Homo sapiens: one gene and its partners. The protein of the gene in region 2 interacts with the protein of the main gene of each other region in a pairwise test. Each region holds a gene or a part of one and is shown on either strand. Other genes may lie near its edges.

The links. Proteins that work in one complex are often made in the same cells at the same time.
Region 1: the proteins of CPLX4 (region 2) and AQP1 interact in binary tests that used the Homo sapiens proteins (3 or more experiments, as listed by UniProt).
Region 3: the proteins of CPLX4 (region 2) and VAMP5 interact in binary tests that used the Homo sapiens proteins (3 or more experiments, as listed by UniProt).

Annotation. Positions count from the first base shown.
Region 1 is NC_000007.14:30,907,592-30,914,858, reverse strand, and holds the start of AQP1 (aquaporin-1), read right to left. Parts: upstream 3,007-7,267; 5' UTR 2,950-3,006; coding exon 2,566-2,949; intron 1-2,565. UniProt on the Homo sapiens protein: Forms a water channel that facilitates the transport of water across cell membranes, playing a crucial role in water homeostasis in various tissues.
Region 2 is NC_000018.10:59,308,626-59,315,649, forward strand, and holds part of CPLX4 (complexin-4), read right to left. Parts: intron 4,148-7,024; coding exon 4,060-4,147; intron 1-4,059.
Region 3 is NC_000002.12:85,587,413-85,593,912, reverse strand, and holds the end of VAMP5 (vesicle-associated membrane protein 5), read right to left. Parts: intron 2,189-6,500; coding exon 2,051-2,188; intron 966-2,050; coding exon 756-965; 3' UTR 507-755; downstream 1-506. UniProt on the Homo sapiens protein: May participate in trafficking events that are associated with myogenesis, such as myoblast fusion and/or GLUT4 trafficking.

The sequences.
Region 1 (7,267 bases), on a different chromosome or scaffold from region 2:
GAGAAAGTTGTCCCCAGCATGTCCCGAAGGGACACCCCCTGACTCACCCCAACCACTTCCTGCCACATCTTTCTCTGTTTTCCTTGGAAATCTCCATGCCAACCACTTGCCCCACCCAGGTTTTGACTGGGCTGGGGCTCAGGGCCAGAGAGGCTGCAGGAGCCTACCCCAGGTCATGAAAGAGAGTGTGTCACCTGCTGCCCAGACTGTTCCCTGCTCCTCTTGAGGCATCCAGGCCACCCCTGAGGCCCCTCCAGTTCCAGGGCCAGTGTCTGACGGGAGCCCTTAGAGGGGTACCTTCTCTATTTCTAGGCCCAGAGTTGAGGTCCTGAACCCCACCCTTCCACTGTTGGGACAGGACAGCGCCTGAGCCCCCACCATCATGCTAAGCGCCCTTATGTTCAGCACTGCCCCTGCTGGGCTGCTCTTAGCCAGCTTTCGTGGGATGGGTGATAAGCTCAAAGCAATGAAGTGAGCTGGCTGTCTGGGTGTGGCTGTGAGGTCACAAGACCTGAGTTCCCTCTCGAGGGTCAGGGTCCGCAGCTCCAAAGAAGCTCAACAAGTTAGCAGTGGACACGTCTTGAACCCAGGTGTCTGCCTCTCAGCCCAGGGCCGGACCCCACACTAGGCTGCTCCTCTTTCTCTCCCATTTGCAACACGCCCAGCCCAAGTATTGGGGTGACTATAAAAAATGAAGGCCAGGGAGGGAATGGGGCACGGGAGGCTGGTGTGGCCTCTGTTCCAGATGGCACAGAAGGGGCCCACCCTCCCGCCTCTGCCTCGGATGCGCATACTAGAGGGTGAAGCCTTCGCCAGCAGGTGCAGAGGCTCCGCCCTGTGAGATGGGAGGGAAGAGACGGGGCCAGAAAGCCTGGAAATCACATCCACTCCCCTACAGGGACGCTCCCCCAGCCCATCATACCCAGCCAAGCTTCAGTGTGAGCTTGACCCTACCCAGCAGAACTCCCTGAGGCCACAAGCTCTGCACCCACTGGCAACTGAGGCCTGGGGGGGCAGAGCTTGATGTGGCCTGCCTGAGCTCTGTCCCGTACATCCCCCGCGGCCACGTCTAAACTGGCTAAAGTCTAAACTCCAGCCCACGGAGCTAATCTTCAATCTTGGGCCTAGCAGAGGTTGGCTGCAGAGGAGGTTGGGTGAGGTGTCACCGTGACACAGAAGTGCTAAGCCCCCCATGGCCAGGCTGAGCCAGCTGCCCTCTGCACCAGACCTTCACCTAGCCTCTCCTGGGCTGCCAGCCGCAGGATCTGAACTTTGGCTGGGAAGCGAGAGGACAGCTGCTGTAATCACTATCTGCCATCTCTGAGGCGCCCTCAGAGATGGCCCACACCGTCCCCACACCCACATGCCCTGCCCACAGCCCCGCCAGCCTCATCTCTCTAGACGAGTCCTCCTCTCTGCTCCTTGGCTTCTCTCCCTCCCTGTAAGGGCACCCCCAGGCCTGCTCACCTGTCCCTTGGGCCCTCAGAGACATCCTCCAAGCCTTCCCCAGTCTCTCAGGCCAAATCCTCCCCTGCTGTGGCCCAAGCCCGGCCTGAGTTTGCACTTGTCTGAGGAGCTGGGAAAGGCCGTGTCTGGGACAGCAGGCAGCTGCCACCAGGGCCAATTTGCCATGCTAAGCAGCCCAGGAGACATTCTTTTCCACAGCTGCCACCCAGTCACCAGCATCTGCTTGTCATTAGTGACCCCAGTCCAGACCCCATTCAAGCCAGGAGCCATGGGCACGTGTTGCAAACTCACCCCCACACACCCTTACACAGCAGCACAAACATGCACACAGTTGACACAAGCACAGAGACTCATGCTGGCAAACACATGCACACATACACACCTTCACACACACACACGCACACGCACATGCACACACACGCCACACCTCTCAGTGCCTAGAGACCATGGAGCCCAGCGCTTGCCCCCCAGCCCATACTGTAATCCAGGAAAACTGCCTTCAAACAGCCCCAGAGAGTGTTTTCACTCCCTTATCTTTGTCTAATCTCAGGGGCAAAAGAGTGGAAGAGGGCCTTTCTCTTGATTCCTAGAGGTGGTTTATTTGGAAACTAGTGTGAATATGGGGGGCTCCCTGAGGGAGTCCTGCTCACACACTTGCAGAGCCAGCTGCAGACAGGCTGGGCATTTGGTTCAGGGTGGCTGGGGACAGCGGGCAAAGTTTCCCCAGGGTGCAGGGCTGCAGGAGGAGGGAGCTGGCGGCACAGGCAGGACTGAGAAGGGCCAAAAAGCTACAGCCAAGGGGCGAGGAACTGCTGGCCAAGCTTATTCCCCATAATAGATGCCCTGCAGGGGACATTGGCAAGACCATTATTCTCTGGATCTCAGCTTCCCACAGTGCCTGGCAGAAAACAGGCTTTGGGAGGCATGCATAGCTGAGTTCCAGCCCCAGCTCTTCCCCCCAGCTCTCTACGTGACCTCCAGCAACCTCTTGTCCTCTCCGTTCCTCAGTGTCCCCATCTGCACAATGGGCAGAGGATGGAACCAGTGCCTTTCAGCATCATTCTAGAACCCCCCCAAGCCCAGGGACACCCCACTCACGTCATTGCGGCCAAGCGAGTTCCCAGTCAGGGAGGAGGTGATGCCTGAGAGGATGGCGGTGGCGACGATGGCCCCCACGCACTGGGCGATGATGTACATGAGGGCACGGAAGATGCTGATCTGGCAGCTGAGCAGCAGCCCCAGTGTGACAGCCGGGTTGAGGTGGGCGCCGCTGATGTGGCCCACACTCTGCGCCAGCGTGGCGATGCTCAGCCCGAAGGCCAGCGACACCTTCACGTTGTCCTGGACCGCCGTCTGGTTGTTCCCCACCGGGTATTTGAAGCCCAGGGCAGAACCGATGCTGATGAAGACAAAGAGGGTCGTGGCCAGGAACTCGGCCACCACTGCCCTCCAGAAGAGCTTCTTCTTGAACTCGCTGGCCATGCTGGCAGGGGGCTTGGCCTGAGACCGCTGCCGGGTGCTCAATTCCCTCTGAGAGCTGAGCCACAGCCTGGGCTGGGCCTATTTATAGGGCCGGGGGGCGGGGGGAGCACAAAGGGAGGAAGGCCTCTCTTCGCTCCTGGCCCGCCCCACACCACACAGACCTCCTCTGGATGGATGCAGACACGGCTGTGCTGTCGGCCTGCCAACTTTTTCCTTCCTCCTCTCCCCCTCCCTCTCTCTCTCTCTCCCTCCGCCCTCAGCCCTGCCCAGCCCAAGGAGGCAGGCAGGAGGCAGCCGTTGCTCTAATAGGCTTTGGGAAATTCTTCCAAGCTGGCCCCACTCAGGGAACCAGAGAAATCCAGGTGTCTCGGCCCTGTGTGCAAAGCTCAGGGAGTTCCTGAGGGCAGAGCCAGGTGCTCCGGAGTGGGTGGGGTGGGCGGGCTGGACTCAGTGGGTGGACGTTGCCCTCCCTGGAGGCAGGTACCATGATCCTGCTGGCCTGACATCCCCATCCCGACCCAGAGAGGCACTGGCCTGGAGTCCCCGGGCCCAGGGCTCCAGAGGGGCAGTCAAGTCCTCCCGCACCGCCACTGCATGCCATGTTAGGGATGTCCCAGAGTCCCCAGTCCCCCAGAGCCAGGGCTCTGTGGATGGGGGCACGGAGGCATCAGAAGTTGCAGAGAGGTTGTCTGTGGCTGCCCTGCATGCTGCGGTTGAGGGCAGGCCCGAGCTAGGCAGAGCTGTTAGAAAGCCCCCGCCCTGGGAGCTCCCAAACTTCTCGACAGCGATTTGAACCAATGATTTGAGGGCAGGCTGGTGAAGATAGGGACAGTTTAGGACTTTCCTCTCAAGGCAGTCACACTGGCGGGTCACTGGGAAGGTGGAAGGAATGGCAGCCCCACCTGGCATTGGAAGGTGCTGGAGAGGAGGGAGGGAGGGAGCAGGAGAGAAAGGCAGAGACAGACAGATGCTGGCTGAGGGGAGGAGAAGAGACAGACAAGGAGAAAGGAAAGACAGTAGCAGGGAAATAGAGCAAAAGTGGAAGTGAAAGAGACAGATCCCCCAGCCAGAGACAGTGAGACAAGCAGGGCTGAGAGAGACAGAGAGAGCGCAAAGGGCTAGGAAAAGACAAACTGAAACAGGGGAGATAGGACTGGACCCAGAGCCAAGAAGCAGAAAGGGAGAGATAAATGAGGAGAGGCAGAGAGCGGGAGGGACCAGACGAGCCCCTGCAGAGGGAGGGGCCGAGGCCCTGCTGCAGATCCCCGTGGGCCGCCTGTGCCCCGGGCATCTCCAATCCAGAGGCCTAGCGCCAGCCAACAAACAAGAATCTGGACTCCAGGGCCAGCAAGCTGTCAGGAACCCCTGGGCCTGGCCCTCTTGCCTGCTGCATGGAACGTGCTGGAAGAACCAGGCCCAGAAGGGAGGGTCCCCCTGCGTCCCCTAGGGAAGGCCTGGGATGATCTGGGCTCTCCTCCCACCTCCTGCCTGCCCCACCACAGTCCCACTCGGGCGTGTTGGCATCTTCCCATTTATAGGTGGGAAACTGAGGCCCGGTGAGAGGACTTTTCTAAGTGTGCCTGGGGCAGGGCAAGGATGAGTGGGTCTTATGCCTCTTGTCCAGGGGCTATCCTGCAGAGAATGACACCAGCTGTTACTGGCCACCCCTCTGCCCAGCTGTGGCCTGGCTCTTGGGGTGAATTGCCAGGGACCAGCCTGGTGTGTGTTTGCTGGGGCTGCAGGTGGGGAAGATTCATTCCCCTAAGTGCCTGTACAGGACGGTGGTGGCCAGCAGGCCCTGCCTGCTCAGACAGCCCAGGTGGCCGAAGGTCATAAGTACTTTCTTAGCTGTCCAGGAGAGGAAACTGGCCCCACTGGGCTACTTCCTGGGCCCTCCTCTACATCCTTTCCTCTGAGGAGCCCTGGCTCAGCATTCCAGTCTCTGGGAGGCTCCCTCATGCCCCTGGCCCCTGGCCCCTGGCCCCATGCCCTGGCAGGGACACTGACCCACATGAGGAGCTCTCTGGTCAGTTTCAGGGGCGTCCAACCAGAGCTCTCTCTGCAGGGCTAGGATCCCCTCACCTTGAAGTTTTGGAGGGCAAACTGTTTCTCCTGCAGACCTGGCTCCTGAGGGCAGGGGTGGCACCCCTTAGACCAGGGTCCTCTGGAACATGGCCATTTCCCTTCAGGCCACAGGCTCCTGGGCATCTCCCGTAGACCATGTCTACTGAGGGACATACACACCTCCTCCTCCCCTCACCTGTCCCTGCCCTGCTATGTTCTGAGGCTGTCGGGTGCTGGGACCCAGCCAAGAAGACTTGAGGAAAGAAGCAGGGGCAGAGCAGGCACCAGGCCGCAAGGAGCCACTGAACTCAGGCCAGTGTGGCCATGCAGAGTGGCAGAGACAGGAAAACGGGCCTGCATGGACCCAGGCATGTCCCGTGTGTCCATGATGGTGTCCGTGGCTGGGTCAGCATCTGTGCAGCCGAGGACCCATGATTTTCCAGGGGGCCCATGTGGGTGAGAGTCATCTGGAACTTACTAATTTATCCAACATATAGTTGGATAAATGTTTAGTGTGTGTCACATGCCAGACATTGCTCTGTGTACAGGGGAGACAGCCACGAGCCAGACAGACCAGCTCCTGTTCACATGCAGTTTCCATCTTGGTGTGAGGGCCCGCAGGTTAGGTGAGGACACGGTGGCTGATGATCGAGGTATTGCAGAGTGTGTGTGTGTGTGTGTGTGTGTGTGTGTGTGTGTGTGTGTGTGCACTCAGCAGAAGCCCTTGTTCTGCATTGGGGCAGGAGGCCAGGGGGACCAGGGGGAAGTGGTCAGGCAAAGCACTTTTGTCCAGGCAAGTAGGTGCCCACCAATCTCAGGAGGCTATGCGGGTCCTCAGGGTGTCACTCCACCACCCCTTGCATCTCCCAACCTCTCCCCCTTGTGAGTGTGGCCTCTGCCTTTAATACCACCATTATGGTGCCATTCTTTTGGAGGAAGGCATGGCTGTCGCCAGGAGGCGCCACCAGAATGCAGGCACGGCCAGGAATGCCAATACAGAGCTCACGTGCCCACCACCTCCGAGGGGCCCTGTGGCTGTTACCCGGCCATGTGGCTAAAAAGGGGAAAGGCTTGCCGCTGGAGCCCCAGGCCCAGGGACGTCTCCAACCCCTCCGCCTCCTTTTCCCTGATCTGCCACAAATCCAGGCCAACCAGAGAAGGAAGAAAGGAAGAAAGGACACAGTGTCCAGCTGGGGCCTGTTTCCTGCAACCCCGAAAGGCTCAGATTGTAAGTGACTTGCCAAGGAAAGGCAGAGCTGGCACTAAAACTCAGGATGCCCCCATCCCAGAGCCCAAATGCAGTTCTCTGCACACCTGTCAGGAAGGGCCCCCAATGACCTGGTTACCAGACAGAAATCCCAGTACAAAATCTGGGGGCTGCAGGCCCAGAGAGGTGCCAGGATGGGTTGGGGGTGGGGAGGGAGGGAGGGGACAGCCTCCAACAACCCTGTATAATTAGGGTGGTGGGGTGGGAATGGAAGCACCGGGCTAAGAGTGGGCAACAGAGGAGCTGAGGGCAGCCAGAGCCACCCCTGTGGTCCCAGTGAGCCCTAGGAGGCTGGGCTCCAGGGCAGGTACTGTGTGCAGCCCAGCTCTCTTCCAGGACTTCCTGACTTAGCAGGTGCTGTTCCCTCGCCCTCTGCTGGCTCCTGGGTCCTCCCATGGACTCGGGCCCGAGCCAAGCTAGTAAGGGGGCAGCCCCCACCCCCACTTCTGAACCCTGGGCGGGGCTTGAGGCCACTGAAGCTGGGCACTGCCTGGCCCTGCTGACAGCAATGGTCTCGGCAAAGGCTTTTCCAGATGTGCCTCATTCCTGACGTGCCTGGGTGACCCACGTTCCAGCCAGAGCTGGCTGTTCCCAGGACTGTCTGGGCCCCGTCTCCCGGTGGGAGAGCCTTGGGCTTCATCCGGAGGAGAGTGGACGGAGCCTCGGATGTTGGCTGAGGGTCCAGACCTTGGGTGTGGCTGAGGCTATCACTGGCCAGAAGCTTCTGCTAAGTGCAGGGCAGAGGGGCTGAGGCGGGATGGACCATTCCTCTGGGGCCAGCAGGGATTTCCCACCCACAAGCCTGGCTAGGGGAAACAGTGACTTCATTCCCTCCAGGAGGGCCACCAGGAAGATGGAGTTTGGGGTAGGAGGGGACTCAGACAGCAGACTGGTCCTGACCATCTAGTCACCATCAGCTCGCCCACAGCTTGGATGAATTTTCCAGAATCATTCAGGCTTTCCTGAATTGGGGCAGAGAACCCTGAT
Region 2 (7,024 bases):
GCCTCCCGCGGGTGCCAGTGGCCGCGGCGCTAGGAACACCAGGGGGCGCCGGCGTCGAGGATTCGGGGCCCGCGCTGGCGACCGCTGCGCCCTCCTTGCTCCAGCCAGGATCTGGCTTGGACGGGAGCGGCTGTTCTGCATAGCCTGGGCAGACGTTAGCCTGGGAAACGTGTCTGTCCCCCGCAGCCTCTTTTTCGCCACATGGGCCATCGAAGGGTCCCTGTACCCAGAGCCTCGTCAGTGCGGGGACGCGGGCGGGAGGGTAACGTGCGACAAGTGACAGCGCGGGAGGCAGAGGAGGCGCCCAAGGGTGGGGCTGGTTTGCAAGCGCAAAGTGTTGCACTGGGGTAGGGGAAGTTAGCCACAGCTGGTGATAACTGGACTAAGTGGAATACGATCCAGCTGATTTTTTAAACTTTTAAATTTTAGTTTTTAAACTGCTCCTTGCAGAGCAGGGCAGTCTGCCCAGAGTAGCCGATTTTTCTTATCATATAGTTTTATTAGGTGCTATTTTTATAGCTAGCTACACGGGATTAGAATTTCCATGTGCTTTACAAAAAGCAGGCAATTGTATTATTGGTATTTGTAGTATCTTCCATACCATAGGCACGGTTTTGAAACATTGTGTGTAGAATCCATTGTTACAAATGCAACCAAATATAAAAACGCCCTTGGAGGAGGGGGTCCCCACCTGGAAGTAAACTGCAATGAATGATGGTGTGTACAATGTTCTCAAGTGAAATTCTTATCTGTTTGTTTGGATTGTATTTGGAATTTAGACAGCTACTTGCAGATCTAGGGTCAAACCGTTAGACAACACAGGAGAAATAATATGCTCCCATTTTTTTAAGCCACGTGGAATTCAAAACTGCCCTAAAATTTTGGGGAACAGCTCAAAATATTAAGAGTAGAAAGAGGCCGGGCGCAGTGGCTCACGCCTATAATCCCAGCACTTAGGGAGGCCGAGGTGGGCGGATCACAAGGTCAGGAGATCGAGACCATCCTGGTTAACACGGTGAAACCCCGTGTCTACTAAAAATACAAAAAATTAGCCAGGAGTGGTGGTGGGCGCCTGTAGTCCCAGCTACTCGGGAGACTGAGGCAGGAGAATGGGGTGAACCCAGGAGGCAGAGCTTGCAGTGAGGGGAGATCATGCCACTGCACTCCAGCCTGGGTGACAGAGTGAGACTCTGTGTCAAAAAAAAAAAAAAAAAAAAGAAAAAGAAAAAAAGAGTAGAAAGAACAAATGCCTTGAAAGGAGGAGCCCTGTTGAAGTCCTTTTGTGAACAAGCTGCTCTTTTTCATGGTTGTGGGGCCTGAGTTCCAGTCCTAAGTCTGTCACAGGAGATGTGGCTTATTGCAAAGCTACTTAACCCTCCTGGGCTGCAGTTATCTCAGGTGTAAAATGACGCAGTGGTATGAGATTATTAGATGAGCTTTATGGTCTCTTTCATGGTCTATGAGAAAATCAGGTGGGGTCTCAAATGCATTATGCATTTGAAACAGCTGTAGAAAAGGGGCTATATGAACATCAGTAAGCCATGCAATGAAAGACACTGGTGGGCTCTACTGTTATTTATCAACATCCTTCATGTCGGTCCCTCCCCCTAGCTGGCTTTAGAGAGCAGTAGCCTATGCAGGTATAGCCACAATCATTCTCCAGAGAGGACCTGGATTTGTGCATTTCATGGCTATCATTTTTTCCTCTTTCCATAGTTTCTGTTGGAAAGGCTCTTGTTTCAAAAGATACCCTGGCACAGAGATTTAAGAATTATTTTTCTTGGAAGAGTACTTAAACCTTACTGCTAAGCCTAAGGGTGTTCACCCCTGAAGATCTGGAAGTCAGCAAGACTGCTGATTTACCATTAGTGGAGAAACAGATAAAAGGCTTGGGGCCTTGAGGCTCAGGAACCTCCATTGTTGCATTGATTACACACCTAAGGACTGGCGGTCCTCAAGACCCCTGGTTGTTATTATCAGGAAATAAGACTTTTGTGCCCAGAGATCATAATGTCAATAATAAGAGCTCTATTGTCAGGCGTTGTACTAGGTCCTTTATATTACATTATCTCAGACAAAGATCCTATGAAGTTAGGTACTTCAGCCCTCATTTTATAGATGAGGATACTGAGGCTCAGATTTTTTTTTCTATTGCTGCTGCATAAATTAAGAGACTCAGATATTTTTAAAAACCATGTGATATTGCATCACAGAGCTACAACGGAACCCCAATTCTCCCTAGATCCCTACAGAAGAATAACAGTTGCCAAAAATAAATCTGTAAAAAGCCCTACATTCTGGACGATGCACACCCAGCCAATCGTGTGTGTGTGTGTGTGTGTGTGTGTGTGTGTGTGTGTGTGTGTGAAATTTCTGCTTCATCCCAACAAGTTGATGATGCTTTAATCAGATGGCCCAAGAGCAGAGGCCAGGGGCTTCAGCGCAGTAGCATGAATCCGACTCAATCTTCCTGCCTAGGGCGAGACCACATTGCTAAAGTGAGCCAATGACATCCAGGGAGTTTCAGGAAATTCACCAGACAATGAAAGTGGAAAGGACAGTGTTTAGAAGTGCTTCACTCTTCCAAAATGCAAGCACAGTGAGGAAAAGTTATTAAACCTGAACGGGGCTGGGGGTAGGAAAAGCAAGGCATTCTTTTCCAAGTTCATTGGTTGTGAATGAAATGAGCTTACATTTTATTGTGGGTTTTCCTTCCCTTATTAAGAACAGAACCCAGGTTCCTTGGGCACCTTAGGGATCAACCTCTACCATGTTTAAGTCTTTGGTGATTTCATCAGTGACCTTGCATAGACAGTGGCTTCTCCCTTGTCTAGTGCTTGTAGTTTCTAAAATCAGCTTTTTCTGGGATCTGCTGGGGATCCATGGAAGGAATTGGTTTAGCAGCACTTTCTAGACCACCCAGACTTGGAGATGGCTCTCATACTTGGGATCATGCCCTTTGGAGGGATCTTTTACTTTGGCTTCTCCAGATGGAAGATGTTCTTTAAGGGATGGCGCATCTTTGGAATATGAAATTGAATAACCAGCTCAGAAGGTGAAGGTGGAGTCATTTAGTCAGGTAGACAGGTAGTGAAGGTGGAGTCAGGTGGTATGAGTCAGAGTAGCAAAGTGATGGGCCCTCTGTCACTACTGGATGCAAGCCCTGGAATAGTACCTCCAAGACGTGTTCCACAACATGTCAACGCATTCCCTTCCCACCAGGAGACCAACGACTCACTCGACCACAGCCTACAGCAGTCACCCTCAGCCAGTGCTGAGATGCATAAGATGGTGCTAGGTGATGACTGTCACTACTACATTATTCCCCAAACCAGCAAGCGATGGTTCCTTTTAAATAGAGGTGGAATATCATAGAAATCAGGACCGTGGGCTCTATCTTTCCTGGCTATCTGGCCCATGGCAGGAGGGTACCTACTTTCTTCATGCCTGTGTTTCCTCTATGATAAGACAGAGATGATAATAGAACCTAAATGACTTAATACATGCCAAGGTACTGTACCTGGTACCTAGAAAGAGCTCAACCAATGTGAGCTATGATTATTGTCCTTGTTGTGTATTTACATAGAGAAGTTCTAGAACCTTTAGATAAGTTTACATTAAAATGTCATCTATAGGTATTAACTCCAGTTTTTTTTAGCAACAGTGGAAGTTCATAGAGGTTAAGTTAAAAACTGGAATCAAGTTTTTATGAACTCCTAGTTCAGTGCTCTTTTCACTATATCAAACATTTCAGTTATGATTAGGATATACGTGTGTGCATATATATATATATATCCTGAATATGTGTGTGTGTATATATATATATATATCTCCTGAATATATATATATCCTGAATATGTGTATATATATATCCTGAATATATATATATCCTGAATATGTATATACATATCCTGAATATATATATTTTTATATATATATATATCTTGAATATATATATATATATTCATATTCAGGAACATGATCCTTTGTGGATAATCAACCATGACTTCCCATTTATCATTAATTAAGAAATGATTAGATGTTTCCAGAGTGTCTTACCTTTGGGAGCCTGTATTTTTCTCTGAGATGAACTCTGAGGCATGCCCTTTCTGCCTTTTTCTGTGTAAATGCAGCATCTCTTTCCATCCTAAAAGTTAAAGAATAAAGGATCAGAAGGATACAGAGAGCTAAGGACATTCCTGCCCGTGCTCAGAGGAGCCAGACACAGGGTTACACCTTCTGAGATGCCACTGCTGGCAGACACTTGGGAACTATGGGATTTTTTTCCTAGGTCCCCAAACGTCTGCCTCTCTGTTTGTTACTCTACTGTCATAACTTTCAGTATATACCTCTAAGTCTCAAAGACAATTTGGTCCTAGGAATCTCTGTGTGATGCGAACCAGGAGATTTTTCCTAACATGGAGTTTTCCGTGGACTGTTCAGCCAGGGACCATGAGCCTCAGAATCACTTGGTGCACCTATGACAAATGCAGCTTCCTGGGCCTGATCCTAGCCCTGCTGCATCAGAATCTCTGGGTGCAGGGGAGGGGAAGCTACATTTTTAGCAAGCTCCCCGAGTGATTCTTACGCAAACTAAAATAGGGCCACAGTGTCCAGAACCAGGCAGTTCTTTGAAGACCGTTGTTGTTGGGGGATATAATATAAACCTGTCTCCCTTCATTGTTACTCTCTCCAGACCCCAATTTAGGTACGGTATTTTCTTCCCAGTTTGGAAGGAGGTAGCCCCAAACAAGGCAGGGTATGTTTCCAGAATGTCAGACTGGGGTCCTGCTGTGTGAATGATCTAATTGAACTCATGATGTTGCTGGTTTGAAATGGACGTTCTTGCTAATGATGATTCAGACAAAAGCAGACACCTTTGGGAATGTCTGCAAGGCTCACAAGCACCACCACCCGTCCCTGCTGCCCACAGAAGTCCTTTATTGGTAGCTGAATTTATATACATGGCCCTGCCCTCTGGCTATATTGGGTTAGACCAAGCTCCGTAAATGAAATCTCTTTGAAAATTTGGGAATGGTACTAAGAATGACAGACACTTGCAGTGTGGCTGTCAAAATAACAGATGAACTTGGTAGCCATTGGCTGTCATTTTCCACTAACCTTGTAGTCTGGCTGCTGAGGAAGAACAAAGCAGCCATGCCCAGATAGAAGCAATGGTAAGAGATAGGGAAAGAGTGCTCGTGGCCTCTCAACAGCCTTCTGCTTTCTGGTTTAGGCCCACGTGAGGCCTGATGGGAATTCTACTTGTGGATCTGGTGAACTATCTTTGCATAAAGCATTATCTGCTTAAAACAAATCCCCTGTTTTCATTTTCAGGTGAAAACTGGTTTCTATGTCTTGACTCCGAGTTTGTAAATAATCTTAACCATTATACAAAAAAACTGAGTGTTAAGGAAGGAGCTGCAGCAAATGATCAGTTTAAACTGATCAAAGGCCCTGGGCTCAGGTGCTCTCTGAACTCATTTCCATCCACAGAATGTCAGGTCTGGAACGGGCATGAGAGAACATCGGGTTCAACCTTCTAGTTTTGGAGAGGGACATCGAATAAAGTGACCTGTCCAGGAGATTAGCGACCTGCGGCATGGACAAGCAGCAGACCTTTTCTCCCCATGTTTTACTGTAAAAACTTCCAAACATACAGAAACGTTGAAAGAATTTTGATATCAAATCCATCTAGATTCTACAATTGGCATCTCACTGTACTTTTTTTTTTATCACACCTATTCCTCTCTTTATCCACATTTTACTTTTTTGATACATTTCGAAGTTGCAGAAATCAGTAACATTTCCCCCAAACTCTTCAATATGCATGTCATTAACTAGCGTGACATGTTTGTTTATAGTTTCTCTTTTCTTCTTGTGAAGCAAAATTTGTATCCAATGCAATGCACAAACCTCTGAAGCACACCATTCAATGATTCCCCAAAAAGCACACACCTGTGTAACCCAAAAACCCTCTCAAGATAGAAAACATTACTCTCACCTGGGAAAATTCCCCCATCCCCATTCCTGATCAAGGCCTACCCCCTAGCCCTAGAGGCAACCACCACGCCTTTTCTACCATAGATTGGTTTTGCCTGTTCTAGAACTTCATAAAATGGAACCATACAGTTCATCTTTGTGTAAGGCTTCTTTCACTCAGCATAAAATACTTTCGAGATTTAACCTTGTTGTTTTATGTACTAGTAGCTGGTTCCTTTTTATTGCTGAGTAGTAAGTATTCTATTGTTTGCGCAAATACAATCACCATTTGTCTAGTCATTTTTCTGTTAATGAACACCTGAATTGTTCCCCATTTGGGGTGACAGTAAGTAAAGCTGCTAAGAATATTGTTCTAGATTTTTTTGTGGACATATATTTTAATTTCTACTGGGTAAATAACTAGGCATGGAATTTGCTGGGTTCTACGGTAACTTACTGGGATGCATTTAGTTTTATAAGAAACAGCACGACCTTTCTCCAAAATGGTCATACTAGTTTATGCTTCAACAATTGAAACAAGAGTTCTAGTGGTTTCACATTTTGGCCAATATTTAACATTTTTTGTCTTTTTGATTTTAGCCATACTGGTGTTTATGGAGTGCTACTTTACTGTGATTTTAATTTTTTCCATTTCCAAGACAGCTAATGATATTAAGCAGCTTTTCATGTAATTTCCAGTAAGATTTTCATGTACTAATTGGCCATGTATCTATCTTTCTGAAGTATTTCTTCAAATCTTTTGCCCATTGTTTTTGCTTTCATTATTGAGTTATAGGAGTTCTTCATATTTCCTAGATTCCAGTCCTTTGTCAGATATATTTTCCAAATATATCCTCTCAGTCTGGCTTGCCCATTTATTTTCTAAATGGCATCTTTTAACGTATAAAAGTTTTTAACTTAGAGTTGAATTTATCATTTAATAATTTTATGGTCATTGATATGGTCATTGCCAATCTGGGTCATGATACAGAAATCTTCATCTACTTTCAAGTTGCAAAGATATTCTCCTACTTTTTTTTCT
Region 3 (6,500 bases), on a different chromosome or scaffold from region 2:
CCTTGTCTCTACTAAAAATACAAAAATTAGCCAGGTGTGATGGTGGGCACCTGTAATCCCAGCTACTTGGGAGGCTGAGGCAGGAGAATTGCTTGAACCCAGGAGGTGGAGTTTGCAGTGAGCTGAGATAGTGCCATTGCACTCCAGCCTGAGCAACAGAGCAAAAACTCTGTCTCAAAAAAAAAAAAAAAAAATTGGTGAAGTGCTTTCTTCTTTGTCATCGCATCTACAGTCTCATTGGTCCTCTAAGCATCCCCAAGATGACAGAAAAATAATAGATTTCATTCTCAGAGAAACAGGCTCAGATGGGGAGGACTGGTTCAAGGGTCTGCTTTGGGGGCCATTGTGTTCTTGCATCCACACTCCCTGTCTGTGTCGGGCTGGATCAAGTAGGGAAGGGAGAGGAAGGAGCCATCTCCCAGGGGTGGAGTCCTTTGGGTGATGGGCTTTTTAAGCAGCCCTAGGGGTAGAGACAGATGGGATTAACCAACCTGGGGACCTTCACACACAGATACCAGCTTTTAATCAAACAGCAGTTTTTACTGAGCTCCAGGTGGGGCTGGCCCAGCATGGCCAGTACAGCAGGCTGCCCTCAAGGGCCAGTCTGTGGCATGACAGGAAATGCAGGGGTGCACATGTTGGGGCTGCCCTTTGGCACTCACTGGGGTGGGTCAAGGGAGAGCAAACACCAAGGTCCTCTGGAGACCAGAATCGGCCAGTGCAGCCATTTGGCTTCTCCTTCAGGACCAGCTGGGTCAGTTCCCAGGCCCTGAGGCAATGCCTGCATCCTGGGTCCGTGGGGCACTACTGCTGTCACTGCTCTGAGGGAGAAAGACGACCAGCAGCACAATCAGGATGATGAGCAGGACACCAACCACCACCAGCCCCACGCAGATCCGGTAACGGATGTTCTCCCAGCACTTCTTCTGGGCCAGGTTCTGTGTAGTCTTGTTGAAGGTTGAGCTCTGCGGATACCCCCAGACACAAAGTGGGAGTTAGCTGGCACCCTCTTGGCCTGGGAGCCAGCTCCTCCCAACCCCATCTCAGTAAGGCTTAGTCTCCTCCTGCATCCTCCCCATCTTGTCTACTTTCTTTCTTTTTTTTTTTTTTTTGAGAAGGAGTCTCTCCCTGTCACCCAGGCTGGAGTACAGTGGCACAATCTCAGCTCACTGCAACCTCTGCCTCCCGGGTTCAAGCAATTCTCCTGTCTCAGCCTCCCTAGTAGCTGGGACTACAGGTGCACACCACTGCGCCCGGCTAATTTTTGTATTTTTAGTTGAGATGGGGTTTCACCATACTGGCTAGGATAGTCTTGAACTCCTGACCTTGTGATCTGCCCACCTCGGCCTCCCAAAGTGTTGGGATTACAGGCGTGAGACACCGCGCCCGGCCTTGTCTGCTCTCTTTCTATACCACCTGCCGTGGAACCCTCCCAGCCTGACTCATCTCAAACACCGGTGTGGCCCTTGACTTTCAGCCCTAGTGTCTCACCCTCAGTTAACAATGCCAGTACTCAGGCTGGACACAGTGGCTCATGCCTGTAATCCCAGCACATTGGAAAGCCAAGGTGGGAGGATCTCTTGGATCCAGGAGTTCAAGACCAGCCTGGGCAACATGGTGAGACCTCATCTCTACAAAAAATCAAAAATTAGACAGGCATGGTGGTGCAGGCTTGTAGTCCTAGCTCTTCAGGAGGCTGAGGCAGGAGGATCACTTAAGCCTGGGAGGTAGAGGCTGCAGCAAATATGATTGTGCCACTGTACTAGCCTGGGCGACAGAGTGAGACTCTGTCTCAAAGTAAAAAAGAAACAAAAAACGATACCAGTTTTCTACCTTTAAGAAGGTCCACAGCTTCAAACCAAGGCCTTCTTATCTTGTGGGGTCTATCTGTTGCATGTCTAGGCTATGGGTGCCTGAGGAAACCCAGAGGCCCCACACTGGCCCTCAAGAAGGCCTCAACCCCACCAAGGAACTGGAGATCCTGAATACAGCCCAAGAGAGACTTTCCCAATCCTCTCCCCTCCCCTCCATGCTCCCCCAGGCCTCACACCATATCCAGGAGTTGGTCTGAACGCTGCTGCAGTTCGGCCAGCTTCACACCACGCTCCAGGACCTTGCCGAAGTTGTTACGCATAATTTCCGTCACCTCGTTCGCCTGCTGCTGGCACCGCTCCAACTCTATTCCTGCCTGGACACCAAGCCCGAGGTCAGGGCTGCATGAGGCCCCCACCTGGCCCTCATCTGCCCCTGAGATCTAGAAGCCTCCTTCTCCCCCTGTAGGTGGGTACAGCATGAGAGTAACAGCATCCTTCGTGTAAGGGTATGATGTGTGCGGAGTGAAGGTCTGGCCTTCGGGGTGAGTGCGGCACACCTTAAGTCTCACAGGCTCCTCCCCTTGCACGTCAAGGCAGGGCCTAGGACCTAGGTAAGTCCCGGCTTCCAGCACCTCAGCTTCCTCTAAGCTGTCCCAAGGTGGGATCTTCCCAGGACCCCACCCTCCCACAAAGCTGATTCTTTTCTCACCTGCTCCAGAATGGCGTCTACCCAATCAATGCACAGCTGCCCTAAGGTTTCCCACTGGCCTAAGAAGGCAGCAAAGAATGGGTAACCAAGCTACCTGGCTGGAACACACAGGGAGGAGACCTACCCTACAGGCTAGAAAGGTAATTTTGAAGCAGCACACATCATAGTCTCTGCCTAACCCCTCTATCCCCAAACTGAGAAGCTCAGATCTTCCTCTTTGGGCCTCTGACTGGTCAGGCCAGTTCTGCCTCCTGGCCTGATCCTGCTCCCTATATCACTGCTCCAACTTCCCTCTCCGTCTGGGAACCTCAGTGGTACCGGTTTTTGGCCTCCAGCCTTCCACTCAGCTGGGGTCCTCACTGGGGTCCAACTTACAGAGATGAGACTAACTCTTGGATTTCCCAGCCTGGGGGGCAGCTTTGCCTAACAGAAAACACCAGCTCATTTCAGAGGACTGGGAAGGGAGGTCTTGGATCCAAGCTGGGGAAGGTTGAAATGACAGGGGAGAGAGAAAGTCTGGGTCATGTGCAAGAAAGGCACTGGGCTTTGGGTGCACGTAACAGAGAGAGACACCAGGCAGGAGGCCCTGGTATAAGCCAGAAGCCTAGGAGCAGGGACATTTCAGGGAGATGAATACCAGTGGATTAGCAAACCACAGAAACTCCTTCCTCTTAGCCTACTTCCCCACAGCCCATCCCTGTTCCCTTCCCCTCCTTACAAGAAGGGCAAGCTTCTTTTCCTGCCAGCCCACGTCACCCATTGTCTACAACAGACATTTTGGCACTTGACTGAATTCCACTTAAAACCAGAAAACTTAAGTGTTAGAAGAGATCTGGTGGTCACAGAGGGCTACCTCCCACTCAGCCAAGAATCCTCCTTCAGGATCCTTGCAGCTGCTTGGTATACAGCCTCCAAGAATTCCCACTGTATGAGTCCTATCTCCCCAGCTGGACCACAAACTCCCAGAGGGAGGGCAGGGAGCAGTGCCCTGCCTTTGTCCACCACCATCCCACCGGGAGGCCAGCACAGTGCTGACCATTGCAAGCAAGGAATCAGTGAGTGGGCCAATTACGATACAGCCTAACCAAAAGCAATTCTTATTCTCAAGAGATGTTCTCCCAGCATGTTTTTCTAGCCCTGCATGAGTTTCGAGGGGCAGGCATTTGAAACCCAAATAGGTCAATATTTACCCATGAGCTAGAAAAGCAACCTGCTTCAAGAGAGGTCAGGCAAACCACTGTAGGGGAGGCTGCGCTCACAGGCTGGAGGAAGCAGTAAGCAGGAAACACAGAGGAACAACGAAGAGAGCAGGGAAACTGCACTCTCACCTTTTCCTGAGTCAACCGTCATCACTATTATTACTACTATAGCATTCAACAAGGCTCCATCATTCAATCCTTTGAACTTCCCCACATTCAAATACTCCAAGGCAGGCTGGGCGCAGTGGCTCACACCTGTAATCCCAGCACTTTGGGAGCCCCAGGCAGGCAGATCACTTGAGGCCAGGAGTTCGAGACCAGCCTGGCCAACATGGTGAAACCCTGTCTCTACTAAAAATACAAAAATTAGCCAGGCATGGTGGTGCATGCCTGTAATCCCAGCTACTTGGGAGGCTGAGATGGGAGAATCGCTTGAACCTGGGTGGCGGAGGTTGCAGTGAGCCGAGATCACACCACTGCACTCCAGCCTGGGCAACAGAGCAAGACTCCATCTCAGCAAACAAAACAAAACAAAAAACAAAATTAAATAGTCCAAAGCAAAAACTTGAGAATGGATAAATACTCGAAAATAAGAGTCACTGCTAGAGACTGGGAAAATGCTGGATATTATCTTTTTATTTTCTATTCTAAATGCTACAGCTGTTGTTACCTTATTTTTCAACAAGGGGTGATATTTGGGTCACATTCTCCAAAGAGCTGGCTGTGCTTCCAGCTGTAATCTGGACCAGTCTCCCCCAATGCGAAGCCAGGCCTGCCTGGAGCCAAGATGGACCCAGGCCTAAAAGAACACATTCGCTCCAGGGAACACAGAGGCCTTAGACTCAAGTCTCGGGCCCTCCTTGGCCCCCACTCAACCAGAGGAAAAAGGACACTGACTATATACACAGGTCTCTGCTGGCACTGTGAGAAATAAAGCTCCAGGGACCCTGGAAGGAGGTAAGCAAGAGGACAAGGGCCATACTGCCTTACGCCACACTGTCACTCAGCATAATGTCTGCAGACAGCAGAGATGTGATAAACAGTTCCTGAATAAATGGTGCCTATATTTTTAAAGATGGGGTCTTGCTATGTTGCCCAGGATGGTCTTGAACTCCTGGGCTCAAGCAGTCCTCCCACCTCAGCTTCCCAAAGTGCTGGGATTATAGGCATGAGCCATCATGCCTGGCCTAATTGTGCCTATTCTTAAAGAGACCACTTTGCCCTGGGGAAAAGACACATGTAATACAATTAGAGAAGAGTAAAGAGTTACACTGTGCGATACAGATAGTAAGTATCAGAGCTGCCACAGAGAGGGTGCCATGGTGGGGGCGGGTGACCCCTTGAAGGATGACATGGAGCAGGGACATTCTTGCACTGAGAGATAGGGATACACCCTGACAGTGAGGACCAGGCAGAGGATGGGAGGGATGGGGCAGGACAGAAGGCAGAAAAGGTCAGGTAGAGAAGACTGGCTCCAAGCGACTGATAAAACTTAAGAGCTAGTGTGGTTTTTGAGCCACGGGTGACAGTGAAGAAGTGCTTCAGGATAATTTCTCTATTGGTGGTAGACAGGCACAGATAGAAGTAAGAAAATGGCAGAGAGGCCAGCCAGAGGGGTGGAGAAGTACCATCAGCAAGACTGCCAGGAGATGGCCACCAGGCGGGAGAGGGGTGACAAGCAGAGCGTGGAGAAAGGAAGAAGGGTGAGACAGGCATTTCTGAGACCTGAGGCCAGAAGCCTGCAGGGCTTGGAATTTTGAGCCAGGGCGAGAGGGGAGCAGTTGTGTAATTGCCAGAGAGTGGCAGTTACACAGGAAATGTTCTTGACAGACTGTTGCCCCCTGTACAGAATATCCCCTCTATGACACTCAAACCTCTCAGGTTTTTCTGGGCTCAATCTCTTTGATTCCTCCTATGAAAACGCAGTTCTCAAAACCACACCATCTGGGCCAGGCACGGTGGCTCATGCCTGTAATCCCTGGACTTTGGGAGGCCAAGGTGGGCAGATCATGCCTCTACCAAGAAATACATAAATTAGCCAGGCAAAGTGGTGCCTGCCCATAGTCCCAGCTACTCGGGAGGCTGAGGCAGGAGAATTGCTTGAACCTAGGAGGCAGAGGCTGCAGTGAGCCAAGATTGCGCACTGCACTCCAGCCTGGGCAAAGGAGTGAGACCCTGTCTCAAGAAAAAACAAAGAAACAAAAACAAAAAAACCTCCCTATCCTAACTCTCCTTGTCTCCCCATCTCCTGTCTAGTATCCAAGAAACTGTTCTAACTGTCGTCAGATGAATGGGCGCAAGTACCGGTATAACATTGCCTCCCTAAGTCGGCACTCAGCTCAGAGACTAGGAGCAGGGCTCTGCTTTGCACCCGTCTGTTGAAATCCTGCTTCTGCCACTCACCAGCTGAGTGACTGAGACTGAGGATATGACCTTTCTGACCTCCACTTCCTCTTCTGTAAAGTGCTGATAATAATGTTAGCTAAGGATTATGTGACTTATTGTAAATCAAAAGCTTAGCACAACGCCTGACACATACTAAATGCTCAATAAATAAGAGCTATTATATTGATGTGGCCCACATTTCCCTAGCTCCTTTTTTTTTTTTTAGCAGTCAGATCTCAAGAATTGTACAATATGGCCAGGTGTGGTGGCTCACGCCTGTAATCCCAGCACTTTGGGAGGCCGAGGCAGGTGGATCACAAGGTCAGGAGTCTGAGACCAGTCTGGCCAATATGGTGAAGCCCTGTCTCTACTAAAAATACAAAAATTAGCCAG